Homo sapiens: one gene and its partner. The protein of the gene in region 1 purifies or fractionates together with the protein of each later gene. This does not show direct contact. Each region holds a gene or a part of one and is shown on either strand. Other genes may lie near its edges.

Region 1 (8,680 bases):
TCCCCACTACCCCCATCCACAGGATCCCCAGATCACACTGTGAGAACTGCTGCTCTGGGGTATATACCTAGAATTGCCAGGTCACAGAGTATGTGCATCATTCAGCTTTACTAGAAAATGCCCAACTTTTTCTAGAATGGTTGTATCAATTTACACTCCCACCAATGGTATCCAGTGGTATCCATTCACTCTTCATCCATTCTGGTGTTCACCTCCACCACTCCTCCAAAACCACTACTATCAAGGTCATCAATGATATCAATGTTGCCATAGCCAATGGACCCTTTTAAATCCTTATCTTCTCAGCACTCTTGGAACATCCTTGACACACTCCTGGTTATGTCCCTGCCTCTTTTTTTTTTTTTTTTTTTTTTTTTTTGGGGATGGAGTCTCACTCTGTCGCCCAGGCTGAAGTGCAGTGGCATGATCTCGGCTCACTGCAAGCTCCGCCTCCCGGGTTCACACCATTCTCCTGCCTCAGCCTCCCGAGTAGCTGGAACTACAGGCGCCCACCACCACGCCCGGCTAATTTTTTGTATTTTTAGTAGAGACGGGGCTTCACCGTGTTAGCCAGGATGGTCTCAATCTCCTGACCTCGTGATCCGCCCGCCTCGGCCTCCCAAAGTGCTGGGATTACAGGCGTGAGCCACCGCGCCCGGAGCTCTTTACTTCTTTTTCAGTCTCTGCCAACTCCTGCTCCTTCACTCAACCTGTAAAGTTGAAGTTCCTCAAAGCTCAATCATGGATCCTCTTCCTTTCTCAGTCTTTACTGTTTCAGGGTGATTTTTTTCTACTCTTGACTTTTAATGCCATCTCTATGCTGACAACTCTAACTTATATCTGAAACAGACTTCTCCCCTGGGATGTATATACCACTATCTACTTGACTTCTCCACTTGGATATCTCAAGGGCATGTCCAGCTTAGCATATCCAAAACTGAACTCTTGATCTTCCCCTGAAAATCTGTTCCTCTTTCTGTCTTCCTCATCTCAGTGAGTGACTGGCCTACCATCACCAGATCCCTTGGAGTTCCCCCCTTGATTGGAATGGAATCCCTTGATTCCCCCCTCCCCCTCCTTCTCCCAAGCTTTCACACCAAGCCTTCTCAATTCTAAATATCTCTCAAATCAGTCTGCCTCTCTCCATCTCCACTGCCACCTCCTTAGTCAGCTCACCATCATCTCTGGCCGCAGTAGGTTCCTAATCTTGTCCACCTGCAATTCAATCTAGAGCAACCAAAGTCATCTTTGTAAAACGTTAAATATACCCTGTGAATCTCAAGCTTAAAACCTTTCAATGTGTATTTCAGCATTTTGGGGATGTGAGGTATCTGCAAAAGAGATACTATTTCCTCGGGATCCAGTTCACATACGATACAAACTGAAGCATTTCATGAAACATATTTACCCTTCCTACATGATCCTATGATACACTCTTTTTATTAATTAATTTATTTATTTGTTGTGTATGTGAGATGGAGTCTTGCTCTGTCGCCCAGGCTGGAGTGCAGTAGCACGATCTCGCCTCACTGCAACCTCCATCTCCCGGGTTCAAGCCATTCTCCTGCCTCAGCCACTCGAGTAGCTGGGATTACAGGCACGCTCCACCACACTCGGCTAATTTTTGTATTTTTAGTAGACGGGATTTCACCATATTGGTCAGGCTGGCCTCAAACTCCTGACCTCAGGTGATCCACCCACCTCGGCCTCCCAAAGTGCTGGGATTACAGGCGTGAGCCACCATGCCCAGCCCATTCTTATATTTTCTATTCTTAAATTGATTTCAGTACCTTCTCCAGTTTGACCCACATTTAAAAGCACTGCTTCAATACCTTTTCATTGCTTGTAGAATAAAACCCATTCTTCTTAACATGGCCTAAAAAGCCCTGCATAATCTAGCTCCTGCCTACCTTTTGAATCTCATATCCCACCCCTCTTGCCTTCCAAGCACTATGCTTTAGCCATATTAGCCTTCTATAGCTCCTAAATAGGCCATTTCTCTTTCTCCCCAGGGCCTTCCTACTTGCTGTATCCTTTGCCTGGAGCACTTTTGTGTCCACTCATCTGCCAACTCCCACTCCTTCAGGGCTCAGCTTAAATAGCAGCCCTTGCCTGACCCCTCAGGCTAAATCACACCCCCCCACACACACATACCCGTTATTCTCTTTCCTATCACCCTGTTCTGTCCCTTTATAACCTTATCACAATTTGTAATTATGTGTGTTTATGTGTTGTAATTATGTGTTTATTTCACATCCTCTCCAGTACCAGCCAATGAACTCTGAGGACAGTTTTTTCACCATTGTCTTGTTCATGTCTGTCTTATTCACTGCTGCATAGCTAGTGCATCACATGGTGCCTGGCCCATAGTTTGTGTTCAAAAGACATTCGTTGAATGAGCTGAGATCTGAAGAACAAATGAAGTGGAATTGGGGAGATGCAGAGAAAGTTTCACTCAGCGAGAACAGCATATGCAAAAACTTGGAGGCTAGAGAGACTAAGGAATAGTCTAAGAATTTCAGCACGGAAAGGCTGGCAGGGGCACAGATCATGAAGGGCCATTTAACCTTTCCTGTTAAGGAAGGTGGGTTTCATTTTGAGCCAGTAGAGACTCACTGAAGGGTCCTAAACATGGGAGTGATATAATTTGATTTAACTTTTATTTAATTATATATATATATATATATATTTTTTTTTTTTTTTTTTTTTTTGAGACGAGTCTCGCTCTGTCGCCCAGGCTGGAAGCAGCATGATCTTGGCTCACTGCAACCTCCGCCTCCCGGGTTCAAGCAATTCTCTGCCTCAGCCTCCCAAGTAGCTGGGATTACAGGCATCCGCCCCCATGCCCGGCTAATTTTTGTATTTTTGGTAGAGATGGGGTTTCACCATTTTGGCCAGGCTGATCTCGAACTCCTGACCTGAAGTGATCCACCCACCTCGGCTTACCAAAGTGCTGGTATTACAGGTGTGAGCCACCGCACCCGGCCTTATTTATGTTTTCAAAAGATATACACTGCCTATAGTGTAGAGAATAGATTCCAGAGAACAAGACTGAAATAGGGAGGCTGTGACAGTATTGCAGGTTAGAAATGGTTCTGGTCTAAACCAGGGTAGTGGCCCCAGAAATGTAGAGACTACATAAATAGATTTGGTAGGAGGTCAAAATGATGGGACTTGGTGACTGCATGGGTGATGGAGGAGAGAAAAGAATTAAGGGTGTAACCCGGGTTTCTGCTTTGACTGGGGTCATTCACTAAGGTAAGACACAAAGAAGGACAAACAGGTTGGAAGGAGGATGCCTTGAGTTGGGAAGAAGCTGAGGTTTTAGGTGTCTCTGGGATATTCAGGTAGAGCTGCCTAATAACCAGTTGAATGCATGGGTCAGGAGAAATATCTGGTTTTGAGGTATCAATTTGGGAGTCATCAGCAAAGATATGATCATTGAAGCCAGGGGAGCAAATGAGATAAAGAAAAGAGCGGCCTGTAATCCGAGGCTTCTCTTTCCTCAAGTGGATCACTTGAGGTCAGTAGTTGGAGACCTGCCTGGCCAATATGGCAAAACCCCGTCTCTACTAAAAATACAAAAATTATTCGGGCTTGGTGGTGCATGCCTGTAATGCCAGCTACTTGGGAGGCTGAGGCAGAAGAATAGCTTGAACCCGGTAGGCGGAAGTTGCAGTGAGCCTAGATCGCGCCACTGCACTCCAGCCTAGGCGACAGAGCAAGACTCTGTCTCAGAAAGAAAGAAAGAAAAAAAAATCACATGTAGAGAGAGGACAAGAGCGCTCAGGCCAAAGCCCTGAAGAGCACCAGCATAAAGCGTTGGACAAAGAGGAGCCTGGAAAGTAAAAAAAGAATTACTAAGGAAGTAGAAGAAAAACAAGGAAAGTGCAGTGTCATGGAAGTGGTTTAAGGAGGAGGGAGTGGTCAACAGTGCCAAATGCTATCAAGAAACCAAGTAGGATAACCTCTGAAAAGATTCTATGGGGGCTGGGCGCGGTGGCTGACGCCTGTAATCCCAGCACTTTGGGAGACAGAGGCCGGCGAATTACAAGGTTAGAAGTTCGAGACAAGCCTGGCCAGTATGGTGAAACCCCGTCTCTACTAAAAATACAAAAAAATAGCTGGGCGTAGCTACTCGGGAGGCTGAGGCAGAAGAATCGCTTGAACCCAGGAGGCGGAGATTGTAGTGAGCCGAGATCGTGCCGCTGCATTCCAGCCTGGGCGACAGAGTGAGACTCTTGTCTCAAAAAAAAAAAAAAAGAAAAGATTCTATGGGATTTAGTGAGATGTTTCATGGCAGACCCTGATGAGAGAGAGCAGTTTCAAGCAAGTAGTGGAGGCAGATTGGAGTGGGTTGAAAGATAAGTGGGAGGTGGGAAAATGAAGACAGTTGGGTGTAGGCAACTCTTTTGAGAAGTTTGTAGAAGAGAAGAGAAGGAGGTGGTTGGAGAGGCAGAATTCTTGGTAATTGTTTATTTGTTTTTAGATGGAAGAGGTCTATGTTTAGATGCTGTTGGGAAGGAGCAAGGACAAATTCCTAGGCTTCGTAGCAAAAAGTCAAGAGCTTCCTCTACGGTGGCTCTGTTTACTCTCTGCAGCAGGTCAGGTTATTTGCTGAGGGTTACAGGGCAGATGGAGCACTTGGGGTTTGAGGGGAAAGGAGAAGGTTTGAAATGGTCACTGTGGAGAACAGAGGGAGAGCTGACTAGTAGGGTTGTGGGTCAAAACTGAGGGCCTGGTAGAAGCTGGGAACCATGGGTTTATAGTGGCACAAATCTGTGAAGTTGAATAGTTTTCCCCAGCAATGTTTAGCTGCCTGGGCGCAGGCATGGAAAAGGCGGACAGTTGGACCGATTCAAGACTGGGATGTTGCCAGGCGGATGCGACAAATCAGGGAACTGAGGGTATTTAAGAAAGTGACTAAGTAAGGGACCAAGATATCTGGTCTGAGCAAAGTGAAGGAGAATCAGAGACAGGTCCTCTATGAGCCAAGCCCTAGGAACACTCAGGAACATGAAGAAAGGGTTTTGGAAAAGAGAGTGAACGGCAAGCAGAGGGGGGAAGACCTGAGATGGGATGGAAGGGCAGATATGGGGGGAGGGGGTTGAGCCCGGAGACTTGCCTGTGGGGAAAGCAGGCTGAGGGGGAATTTTTTAAGGGGCAGGAGGGCCTTGAGAGCGGTAGCAGCGAGAAGTGAGGCGGCCCCGAGCGAGGGGGCGTGGTCAGGCGCAAATCCCGGGCGAGGGGGCGGGGCCCCGGTAACTGGGTCCCAGTGCCGCTGTGGCTGCGGCTGCCTCTGCGAGGCTCCCGCCTCCCCACCCCCCTTCCCAGGGCTCCTTCCCGCCCGCCGCCGCCGAGACCCAGGCTGAAGCTGGGGAGGACGGTGGAGCCCGGCCCAGGCCGTTCTCCTGCCCCCGCGGCTGGAGCATCGTCTGGGACTACTGGCTGAAGGCGAGCCCCGCAGCCCAAGCGCAGCGCACACGCGCGCCCCCGGCCACCGCCGTTCTCTCTTCCCTCCCCTCCTCTCCCCTCCCCTCTCCTCCGCCCCCGGCCTCGGCTGCGGCGGGAGGAAGAACGCTTCCCAACCAGCCAGGAGAGCCCAGATCTATTCCCATTCGGGGAGAAAGAAGAGACCCCGCACTTGGATCCGACCGACTTCTCGCCCCGGGGCCACGGAAGTGGCTCGCCGTCCACCGGAGAGTCCCCGCCGAGCGTAGCCCTCCAACCCTCGCCCAACCGCAGCCGCATAGACAGCGCTCCCCAGCGGGCCCCCGGCCCCGCCGAGCCCACTCCCCGCGCGGGGCCGGGGCCGGGGCCGGCGATGCCTGGCACGGCAGCGGCGGTGGCCGCGGCTGCTGCTGCTGCTACTGCCACCGCTGCCACGGCTGCTGGCCCGGGCCCGGGCTGGGGGCTTGAGTCTCTGCAGTGGGGCTGAGCCCGCAGTCCCGCCCCCCGATCCTGAGGCCGCTGCTCCGCCGGGCGCCGGGCCTCCTCCGCCCGCGCCTCCGCCCCAGGAGCTGGAGCCAAGCGGGGAGCTCGGGCCCCGCGCCCAGGCCCGGACCATGCATGGCCACCGAGCCCCGGGGGGCGCCGGGCCTTCGGAGCCCGAACACCCGGCCACGAACCCGCCGGGCGCCGCTCCGCCGGCCTGTGCCGACTCGGACCCTGGAGCCTCGGAACCCGGACTGCTGGCGCGCAGGGGCTCAGGTTCGGCTCTTGGCGGCCCACTGGATCCCCAGTTTGTCGGACCCTCGGACACCAGCCTGGGCGCTGCTCCAGGCCACCGGGTCTTGCCCTGCGGTCCCAGTCCACAGCACCACCGGGCCCTGCGCTTCTCTTACCACCTGGAGGGCTCGCAGCCTCGGCCTGGTGAGTGAGCGACTGAGAGAGCATGGGAGCCCGGGCCACGGGCCTGGTACTGGGAGCGGGTTCTTGTTCTCGAGCCCTCTAAGCCCCACCTCGGAACAGGCTCGCTTACCTCGGCCCTTTGGGTTCCCTCAAACCCCTCCTCCTCCCCACGTCCCTTGGCCTTATGTCCAGTCCTTTCAACCTCTGTCCCCATCTCCTCTCTCTGTCCCTTGTGCCCCTCAACCTCTCCAACCCCCTTCTCCTCTGTCTGCTGAGGCTAATGGGAGAGGGAGCACTCGCGAGAAAAAGAGGGAGGATTGCAAGGCAGCAATCCTTGGATATTTGGTTGGGGAAACCAGGGTTTCGTTTGGAGAACAGAAGAAAAAAAGGAGCCTTACATTTGCCAAGCGCCTACATTGTACCAGGCACTGGACTGGGTGCTTTACATGGATTTTCATTTCAGCTTCAGGAACCCTCATGAAGTAGATACCATTAGTCCCATTTTGTAGGGAAGGAAACTGAAGCTCAGAGAAGTTAAGCAACTTGCCCAAGGTCACACAGCTAGTATGGAGCCACGATTCAAACCAGATCTGTTTGTGTCCAAAGTCTGTGGTCTTTCTGCTTCCCCAAACTGAGGCTGGAGACCATGAAAGTAATGCCAAGCCTTCTGCTTATGTGATTTTCTCCTGTACTATTCAGCAGCCCTGGAGTATGAGCGGAAAAAAAAAAAAAAAAAAAAAAAAAGAAAGACGGTGGATTGATCCAAGGTTGAGATTTTGCCAGGTGTGTGTGGCGGGAGAACAAGGGAAGGAAGGAGTAGAAGGTGCTGAGAGAGAAAGGTGGAAGAGGTGGGCCTTGGGAGTCAGGCTAGAGGAGAAGGCTGGAGGGGCTGATAGGTAGGGAGACAGCAGAAAAGCCAACAGAGGCAGAAGCCAGTTGTAGCAGGAGCTGGAGAGCTGCAGGTCCACGAGGTTGGTTGTGATGTGAAATCAGGATGGTTTCTTGGATTTGAAAAGGTGGAGCAGCTTTAAGTCAGGCTGAGGCCACAGACCACTGCCTTTGTGCTACACAGACCTGAGTGTCTGAGGAGCACAGCAGGACCTTCCCCATCTGGGGACATTCTCATACGGGCCTGAGCCCAGGAGCCACAGAAGAAGAGCAGCGCACATCTGCCCTGCCTTCCACTGGGACTGAAGGAGTTGTTAAGCCCTTGGGGGCTCCCGGGTTCACACCTCAGGCTCCACAGATCTCTGGGACCGTGGCCTTGCACCAGGTAGCAGTAGTGAAGTATAAAGCATGGGTAGGATGTGCCTTTTGGTGCCTTCATGACCTTGGGCTAGTCATGGAACCTCTGGGAGATTTCAGGGGGCTCCCTCAGTGTGGGCTGAAGATAACCAGCTGGCAACAGGCCCTTAACACCTTGGCCTGCATGTTACTTCTGCTGGCTTTCCAAACTCCCCTTGACACTGTGTAAAGCCAGTGCCTTTTTGCAGCTGCCAAAACAGGCCACAAGCACTCCCACCCCAGGACTTTTGCATTGGCTTTTCCTTCTGGCTGGAAGCTCTTCCCCTAGCCCTCCACCTGGCTTGCTCCTCGTCTTGCATGTCTCAGGTCAAATGTCACCTCTTCCAAGAGACTGTCCCTAACCACTTTAGGTAGGGCCACTTGTGAGTCTCCATCAGAGACTGTGAGTGTGCTTCCATCTTTGCACTTAGTACAATCTGAAATTATCTTATTGTATGTGTCTACTCGTTTATTGCCTATCTTCCTCTACTAGAATGTGAGCTCCATGGGGGCAAGGCGATTATATCTCTTTTGCTCACTGTTGTATCCCCAGCAACTAGCGCAGTGCCTAACACGCAGTAGGTGTTCAAGAAATCCTCATTAAATAAATGCCTAAACAGATACTAAAGAAGCACATAGTAGGCCCTCAGTAACTATTGCCTAAAAGAAGGACACCAAATTCCTGCCCTCTGGATACTCTTGATCTGAAAGTCAGTAGCTGGGCAATGTCTAGACCCCCAGTCTCTGGCCTCTGTAATCAATACAAGGTGATGATTCTGAGTATGCCTTCCCAATCCACCAATTCATTCAAATTACAAATCATAATACCCTTCCTAAACCACTCTCCTCCTCCCCAAAAAGGCAACACAGAGTTCCCAGGATCCTTTTCCCCAACGAAGTCCTTGCCTCTGTAATTGCATAGTGGGTGTCTTTTTTTTTTTTTTTTTTGATTCAAGATGGGGATTAGGAATAAGACAAGTGTCAGGGAAGGACCTGGCCTCCTATTCTAACTAATTCACTTTGTGACCCTGGGTGAGTGACTTTT
Region 2 (9,379 bases), on another chromosome or scaffold:
TCAACCCCACCCCAAGCAGGGGCCTGGCAGAGAAGAAGGAAGCCAGGGCTGAGTGCCATCCCCATGATGGAAGCTACTTGCGTGCCTTCATGAACTGACCGAAAGCACAGGACCCTTCGTGTTCAGGCAGCTCCCCCTCCCCGTGGGGATGAGCAAACCCTTTGCAGAATGTCCTGAGAGAACCTTTGCAGTGTGTTCCCAGCACTCTGGAGCCAGCAGAGCTCCTCCTGCGTGGGCCCCAGGCCTCTCATCGGCTAGCTCTGGCTAACACGCACATCCCGTAAAACCTCTCTGCTCTGCAATTTACCAAACCACAGACTCAGAATTCACCATCAGCAGAGGAAAGGCTGGAAGGAGGCTTGCTCCTCCAGTGTAGAGGGTTTCCAGAACACAGGCAATGGGTGCAGCACGTCCTGCCAGCTGACCACACCAGAGGGCCTTACTCACAACACTTGAGCTTTTGGTGTGTGGTATTCACCGTGCAAGGGCCAGGAGAGGAAGAGGCTGCAGCCTCCCCAAACCCGCTCCTCCTGCCCCTGTCTGTCCCACCAGGCCCTTTCTATTGCTTTCTTTCCCCCTTTCAATTATTGGATATGCTTATGTTATGTATTAATATATACAATGCCCCAAATGGGTAGAAACTTTTTGACCACCAGTTATTTGTCCTCTTAGCCAAACCCAACTGGACTTAGGGTACATGCAATGAAAAAAACCCAGCTGTGAGCAGCTGTGTTGCAAGTTACTTTACCCAATCTGGCTCTCCATTTCCTCATCTGTAAAATGAAGGAGTTGAGCCAGATGAGTCTTCGGGTCTCTGCCCGTTCCACAATTCCACAACATGTAACACTTTCTCCTCTCAGTGTTTTCCAGAACTCTAGTTCAGAACTCTGCATGGCCCCATCTGTTCAGTGACATCACTCCCTGCCCCCCCAAACATAATGTCATCGATTCTTACTCGGGAAGCGGAGATGTCCCGGGAAACACTTTGTCTGTAAAAAGGAAGGAAATGATCATTTCGAGGGAACTGGACAGGACTTCTTTTGTGTTTTTCACATAGAACAAGTTATTATCAATCTTAAAACCCAAAATCTTTCTTCCTTTTTGCCAGACCATTAATAGCTGCTTTTCAAAAATACTTTCTTAGTCAGAATCTCACCAATAATAAGCTACCATTTAATAAGAGCTTACTGCGTGCCAGGAACTGGGCTAAGTGCTTTACATAGATGATCTCATTTAATTCTCCCAACAAGTACATACTATTATTATCCTTACTTGAAATTGAGTAAACTGAGGCTGGGGGAGGTTTAAATAACTTGCCAAGGTGGCACAGCTAGTTACTGGCTGCATGCCAGGCTTTGAGCAAGACCGTCTAACTTCAGAACCCCAGCACGCAATCTTGCCTTTCAATCCTGTCTGCAGTGGGCCCCGGTTCTAGTTTGTTACCAGTGTGTCCTGCATCTGCAACCTTGGGCACCATCGGTGGGAGCTGAAATGTGATGTTTCATTTAAAATCCAGAGTTGGAAACGCACCTGCCTGGGTCTCAGAGCAGAGTGCCATCTGTTGAATGCAGTGCCAAGCTCAGCTGAGGACTACAAATGAGAACCCTTAAAACTTAGCCTGCAACATTTGAGAAAAATAAACCCTGGGATATACAAAGGGACATCTGTCCACAGAGCAGGTTGACCACCTGGTGACCCAAGCCCTCCAAAAAGAGCTTTCTTGTAACAGCAGCAGAAAATGCTTGCTGGACCAGATGACACAAAAGAAACAACTCTCTAAGGGTGTCAGGGACTGGACCCGACAGGCACCCACCTCCCTGCCTAGTCAACCTGCCTCCACATTTACCTCCTCCCCATATGAGCCCAGCCGCATTTGCTCAGCTGTAAAGAAACTCAAAGTTCAGAGCTACACTGGTGACAAAGGCAAAAAGAGTAGCCCGAGGCTGACATTGCCACAAACCCCAGTCCCTTTGCAACAGTGGAAGAAAAGGCACTTCAGAGATCAATGTACAATCCAGGGCAGCAACCAGCGCCTGTTTTAACTGTTAAGATTAATGCTTTGAGCACTGGAACTGCTCCTCTAAATACCCAATTTGCAAATAACATGCAGTCCTCTGTGCTTGGGTCTCTTCTATCTCAAGTACAGGAGCACAGACGCTCAGAGGGGTCAAGGACACCGTGTTTACTTCCTAAGGTGTGAGGGATGGGAAGACAGGACCGGCTGAGATGAAAGGGGAACTGTCACATAGGCTCTGGAGCTGCCCCAGTCAACCTTAACCCCTTCTCATTAAAGTTTGGGGGAGGAAGGGGGAGGGGCGGTTCCTCGGAGACCACAGCAAACATTCGCCTCCTCGTGTCTGGAGATGGAGCATCACTTAAGAGGAAATGAACCCGGTTAAGGGTCACGTCCAGAGGAGGGATAAAAGGAAAAGCCACAATTCTCCTCACACCGACGGACACAATGGCTTTATGAGGGAAATCAAAGCTTAGCGCGGAGGGTGGAGGTTGGGCAAGGGGGCGGCGGCTTCCTTCTGCCCCCAGCCCCAGGCCTAGGAAGGCAGAGACAGAGCTGGCGTGGGAGGCAGGGCGCGAGGCTTCCTTCTCCAGGGCGAGCTCTGAAAGCATCTCGGGCTGTGTGAGCGTGAGCGCCCAGGGCCCCTGGGGAGGGCCGAGGAGATGCGCTTTCCCGACGGGGCTGCTCTGTGAGGGGTTGACGAAAGCTCCCCCCACCATCCATCAAAGGCGGACAGATGACTTCACCGTTGTAACAGACAAGGGCAGCCACTTGCCAATTCCAATGCCAAAAAAAGAAACCGGGGGGGCGGGGGTGCGAAGGAGGAAGGACAGAAGAGGCTTCCCTGGAGATCACAGCCCTGCGAAGAAACTCCACGGCTGCTGGCTGCCCAGTGGGCGCTTAGCTTCGCGACCTCACAGCTGGGAGGGGCAAGGGGCCATCCGGGGCCCTCCCGGGACCTCGGGCCACCCCCAGCAGGGTCGGCGGGGGCTGTACTCACGTAGTGCTTGGAGGGGTTCCTCCGCTTCTCCACGTCCACCACGGTGGCATCCTGCACGCAGTAGGCGAGCATCTTCCCCCACAAAGCGAGTGGCGCCCCCGGCGGCGTCACCTTCTCATCCCGGCCGGGCTCCGGCTCCTTCTCCAGCTGCCGGGGTCCCGGGGCCGCCCGCCACCCCGGCCCGGCGCGCCGAACGCTGCCCGGACTCCCGGCGCCCACAGGTCCGGCCCAGGGACGGGGGAGGGTCCCGGAGGGCGCGCGGGCTCCGTGCGCCCCGGGGGACTCCCCGCCGGCCTGCCGCGCGCCCCTTCACTCCCGCGCGGCCGCCGCGCTGCGCTCGCCCGCTCGCTCTCTCCGCCGCCCGGTGGGTCCGGCGGGAACTGGCGGAGCAGAGGAGGGGCGGGGGTGTGTCCCGTCGGCGAGGGGACGGGGCGGGGGCCCCGGAGCCTGCTGTCAGCGTCCTGGGGAGGGGCCGGCGGCTCCCCTTCGCCGCTCTCCGGCTCGGGCTCCGGGGGGATCGGCGCTGGCGGAGGCTGTGGGCGCAGGAGGCGGAGGCAGGGCCTGGCAGGCAGGGAAGGGAAGGGAGGGAGGGGAGAGAGGGGAAGCGCGCGGGGAGGGGCTCCGGGCCGGGGGAGGGGCTCGGGGCGACGGGGAGGGGGCTGCAGCCCGGCCCCAGTGGCAGGGGCGGGCCGACGAGCCCCCACCCGAGCCCAGCGCGCAGCCAGCGGCCTGGCGCAGCACCGGGCTAGTTCGCTAGGCACAAAAACTCAGGGTGGCTTCGGGGGGAGAGGGAGCGGGGAAAGTGAGCCCCGCGCGCCCCCATCCTGGCTTTCCGCCTCGGAGCGGATTTGTGCCTTTTTGTCCCCACTTTTATGTCCCCCTACAACTTCCACCCCCAGATCTCTTTAATGAGAAGTAGTTTATTACCCGGCTGTTACTGCCCAGGCCCCCGAGGAGGAGATGGGAATGGGGAAAAGGCCAGCTTTAAATCCTTCAAGCCAGAGCCTCTTTGGACGAACCACCTGACCCTCTGCAGGTCATAAAGGGTGAATTCTCCCCGGAAAAGTGATCGATTCGTTGCCTGAGTCGTCCATCGATCTGGGCTTGTGTAACTACCCTGTGCATCATTTACCAATGACAACGTTACAGACTCTGCATAACACCACTGCCTTAAGCCCAGGGCTCCCCTGGGGACCCTCCCCAAGCTGGCGACAGGGAAAGGAGCATACAATGGTGGGAAAACCCACCCGGTTGGAGGCCAGCTCACCGTGAGCCCCAGGCTCTGGCATTCTCACCCCTCCCTCTAGTCTGGAAAACCCACTTTCCAAGCCACTTGTCCGTGGTCCCTGGACTTGGAGCACAGTTACTACTTAATTCAATGTAGCTTCCCCCCTTCTAGTTCAACATTTTTTTCCCATTCTGCTTTCAAACATTTAAAGGGTAGTGTTTTCACAACTACTCCAGTTGTTACACAATCACAATAAAGCTTTGTGACTGTGGACCAATGTGAAACATCTGAAAAGAGGACAAATAATTTTGTGACCTAATTGCATTAATACTTTCTTCTGCGCGTTCTCTAGACTGTCAGAACCCAGGCACAGATCTAAGGCTTTATTTATTCACATATTTGCTCCATACAGAGTAACCCACTATTCCTCCAACCTTCCTGGGGAAGGGCGCTAGGACACCAAACGATGGCACGGGACAAAGAAAAAAAAAGATGGATGGGCCTAGGGGGCTCAGACTGTGAGAGATCTTGGCACCAGGCCAGAGCTTCTTGGTCAGAGAAGATGACAGAAAACCTTTGTGAATGTTGGAGCAGGAGTCCTGGGGGAAGGTGCACCTGGTAATGTTGCTCAGCTGATGGGAAAATGGGAGGACAGGGCACTACCTCCATGAGCAAGGATTATTCCCTGAAGGGATGAGAGGTAGACCTGGAACGGGCCCTCCATATTGAGCTCCCGAACTTGGGAGGGTGCTGGCCAGCTCCAGGTCCTCTCTGATGATGGATCAAGACAGCCTGTGAGTTTGTGAGGAAGAGATTCATCATGGCTCTCGGATAACTCGTCTTCTGTGGATGGCAAAGTCTTCTGGAAGTGCTAATAAAACCTGAGAAGCCACCAGCGAGGGGAGCTGGTGTTTAGCTGTTGTGGGGGGAAGAAGAGGAGGGGGTTTAGTTTGATTTGGGTCCCCTTGTGAATCAAAGCAGTCAGCTCATCTAAAACAGCACTAGTGGTTTCCTTATTACCCTTCTTTCGGACCCAGATCCACAATGAACACACCAAGCACAATAAATTTGTAGGAGAGAGGGCCCAGTTCTTCCCCACTTCCTAGCGGCCTACAAAGTGGTAGCCTTTCTCCTGCCTAAAAGACTCCCTGCAACTTGACATTTTATAAATTCAGGCCTTTAAGCCTGACTTGAGCATACTCCCAACTTCCCCCTTTGTTCCGTAATTACCTTTATTGGAGGGAGCAACTGAGTGCTCCCCACTCAACCCCATGGTGCCAAGATCTGGGCAGAAGTTATTTCTACCTGTGGGAGAAAAATGTCTTTTCTGTACTGGGGCCGTATGTCCAAGGGGATTTAAGTATGAAATGGTGCAGGCTATCTCTTCTCTGGGTACATTTCAACCTCATGCAGATTTATTTCCCACAGTGCCTTGGGAATTCCTTTCTGTTCAATACACATTTATTGAATGCCTCACATGTGCCTGGCAATCCCCCAAAAATGACAGAGACTGGGGGAAGTTTCCTTGGAAACAAGGACTGTGCATCATTCATTAAATACCCCAACTATGCGTGGCACACAGTAGGTATATAGGATGGCCTGTGTTGAAAACATCTGCTCAAAGAGCTAGTGCTAGAAAGGATTAGAGAAACCCCTATTTTGCCACCTCCGCCCATGAACTGGAGATGACTCCAACCTAAGGACATTGTGTGAGTTAAAAATGACAAAATATAATTGCAAATTTTTTTTTAAGTTTAGGATAAGTAAGGGAAAGAGAAGCCAACATAAAGATGCAAACTGATACCTGAAAATCTGATTTTCGAAAACAGGTAATTGTAGAATGCTTAGAATCAAAGAACTTTCCAACTAGAAGGGACAAGAGAGGTTATTTATTTCTCTTATTTTACAGAGGAAGAAACCAAGGCCAAGAAAAACTAAGCAAGTTGCTTGATGCCACATAGCCAGTTAGTCCAAAGCCCGCTGTCTTTCCCCTCCACATTTATGTGCCTATACTAGGGCAAGAAGAGCTTGTTTAAAGGGCACACTTAGCACACCTGCAGGTCTAGAATGTTGCATTCACTCAAACCCTGGAGTCCCTGGTTCCAGTTCTCCATTCACACAAGCATATGAACTCGTGATGCCTGGACTTCCCAATAAAGAGGACTGTACAATCCTCTAGAGCAGAGGCCGTGTGTGTCTCCATGGTCCTCTGTGTACGTGCAAATTCCATCAGCTCCCCTAAAGCAGAACCCGCCCTACCTCCTCTCCCATGTAGGGTCTTTGTGACCACCCCCAAAGAAGACAACATGCAGGAAAGTACTGGAAACCACAGTGGGCTATATGAAAGCACAAGAGAACCTTCTCTTCCTCTTCAGAAATCGAATGACAATTGCTAATCATACATTTGTTTACTAATCATACATCACCCTATGACAGCTCAGCCTTCACTGTATTGAACCTTATTTATATCTTTTATTGTTATTTAACTTTCCTGTGCTTTAGGTTGTGCCTTCTAAACCAGTAAGAAGCCTTTGAAGGCCTTGAGGACCATGAACTTAGACATGGACACCACCCTTTCCCTCCCCACCCCCATCATCCAGCACCTCTGTCACCTGCCACACACACCTGCCCACCCAGCGCAGAGCTTTATACATGCCAGGCCCTCAATAAATGGTTGTCTTTTTAAATTACTGGGATCTCAGCAGATATTTGTAGATAATGCTGGGGCTAAGTAATGCCTAAGAAGAAGAAGAATTGGAGTCTCAGAGCAGGAATTACCCAACCTGGGTTCTACTCCTGGCTTAACCACAAACCAGCCTGTGACCTTGAAGTTCTTTCCCACGTCTGGGTCTCTGGTGCTCTTTCTGGCCCTTTCCATGCTGTACAGTGGTGGATAACTTACATAAACTGAGGTCTAGCAAGACTCTCCCCGAGTTGTGTAAATTTGAGTGAAATTTGGGGCCCTCTTCTGGCCAAAGTGGTTTTAGCACTTTTACCTCCTGCCACAGGGACAGGCAGGAGGGCCTGGGACGAATAACCTGCCCTTCTACAGACTGTAAGCGGTCCAGCGCTCATGCTTCTGTCTCTGCTTCTTCTCATCCTCCTCCTCCTTTTTCTTCTCCCCCACTCCCTTTCTCTCTCAAATCAGCCCTGATATATTTATTGACTTATGTTTGGGGAGTGTCTTGAGGACGGTCCCACCGGAGTGTGGAGCAGACAGCAAGGCCAACTGCCCAGGGAAGTAAATTGCTTGTCAGGCTTCTCCTCTCCTTGCTGGGGAACAGGACCAGGATATGGCCCCAGAACTGCCCTACCACCCAGCCCCACTGTTCACGAATTTTAGCCATACTAACAGGCCCCTCCTGTTGCCAAACTACCAGATGGTGGAAGCCGCCTCCGTCTGACACCCAGCACAGTAAGTTCATCAGCAAAATCTCAACATGCTTCTTTACACGGTCCCTTGAGAGTCTCACTCTCCTGTCTTAGCCTGGATTCCGGTGAGGGTCCGTGTGCAGCAGCAGGTTTTGATAGAACCACTTGAAATTCCAGCCTTAGCAAGTGGTCACGCCCTGGAATACCAGAGGGAAATCCGGGAACTTGCACAGCCAAAGAGGCCAAGGGCATAATTAGATTCACAGAGGAAAACAATATTATTCCATAACTCCAGGCTGCATCCCTAACCCTGACCAGACATCTGGCCCCCAAACTAGTGCATTGTGTTTTAAGACCTTCAGGAACGAGTGTGGGTGGTTTCATACAGTCTATCTCAACAATTGAACACACCTTGACGTGTATTCCTGGCTGGGAGGGGGTTGCCAGCATCATCTGGGTATAAAAGATCAGCCTGTATAGTTCTGTTTTAGTGATAAACCACCACAGATTTTCTTTTTCAAAATCCCCTGGATTTTCCAGAATCCAGCAAACCCTGAGTTGGCCTCTGGAAGACAAAAAGAATAGAAAAGAAAAATACCAGGGGGAATTCAAAGGCAGTTTCTTTAAAAATAGCCTGAAGCCACAAATAACCAAAAATATGAATCTGGTTTTGGTTTTATCCTGTCTTTTTTTTTTCAATTCTCTATTCAGAAATGGCATAGAAATTACTGTTCTTTGTCCTGTTTGAATCCACACGTCTCTTTCAGGTGAAAGATTCAAGACTCTCAAAGTCAAGTCCAGCTTCAGCTCAAGCCCTGCCCTATCTAAAGCAGAAGATACCCCTCTAGTTTGTTCTTTTCTTACCCAATAGGTGAGAGACAGAAAGCCTTAGCAGGCTGGCTTTTGCCTACATGGGTGAATCTGGCTGGGATTTGGATGGTCATCAACAAGGTATTGCCCTAGGCAGATTGCTATGATCTTACCTCCTAACATATGAATAGTGTATGTCTTAGTTAAGACTCGTTGGTTTACAAATACTAAAAATTGAGCTAAGCTAGCTTGGAAACGGGGAGGGGGCTTATTTCCAATATATAGTAGCGTCTCATGGAATCCACACACATCCTGGCTTCTTGAAATAGTAGAACCACGAAGTATCAAATCTTCAAGAACATGAGCAATAATAATTTTCTTCATCCCTTATCTCTGCTTAGCACTGTGTGCCTGATTTACTTTTTTGACTGCAGACTTTTTCTCGTTTCTTCACTCATGTAGCAGGAGGCCCCCACAACACGTAAGTGTCTACCAATCTCTCAATTCCAGACACACCTGAAGACTCGCTGGCTGCCTCTGGAGTCCAGTTCCCCCAGTTTGCTGGGGAAAAAGAATCTGATTGGCCCAGCTTGGGTCATGCATCCACCCTGTCCAGTCAATTACCATGGGCTGGAGTTCTGTGAATTTGATCATAAACCAACACATTTGTTTAGGGAATCAATTCAAAGAATGAGGGCCACATTGGGGCCCCTTCAAGTTACTATTCTTTAAATATTTATTCAGCATTAATTTAATGAAGCCTGGGAGAAATAAGTGTTCTGTTAAGCGTGTGCCTCTTCCTGTACACTTAAAGTAAGGCATTTATTTATTTGTTTTTGAAAACTGAAACGGTTTTATTGGATAAAGTGGATTATGTATTGCTACCAATTAATGTTGAGACCAGTTCTTATACAACAATAGTGATCTTTGTAAATACTCAAGAAATAATAGTACT

What was found.
Region 2: the proteins of FGD1 (region 1) and SH3PXD2A purify together in Homo sapiens (affinity purification with mass spectrometry; 3 studies listed by BioGRID and IntAct, with this or other methods). This does not show direct contact.

What each region holds. Positions count from the first base shown.
Region 1 is NC_000023.11:54,492,818-54,501,497, reverse strand, and holds the start of FGD1 (FYVE, RhoGEF and PH domain-containing protein 1), read left to right. Parts: upstream 1-5,263; 5' UTR 5,264-6,065; coding exon 6,066-6,372; intron 6,373-8,680. UniProt on the Homo sapiens protein: Activates CDC42, a member of the Ras-like family of Rho- and Rac proteins, by exchanging bound GDP for free GTP. Plays a role in regulating the actin cytoskeleton and cell shape.
Region 2 is NC_000010.11:103,852,181-103,861,559, forward strand, and holds the start of SH3PXD2A (SH3 and PX domain-containing protein 2A), read right to left. Parts: upstream 3,397-9,379; 5' UTR 3,087-3,396; coding exon 3,015-3,086; intron 1-3,014. UniProt on the Homo sapiens protein: Adapter protein involved in invadopodia and podosome formation, extracellular matrix degradation and invasiveness of some cancer cells. Binds matrix metalloproteinases (ADAMs), NADPH oxidases (NOXs) and phosphoinositides.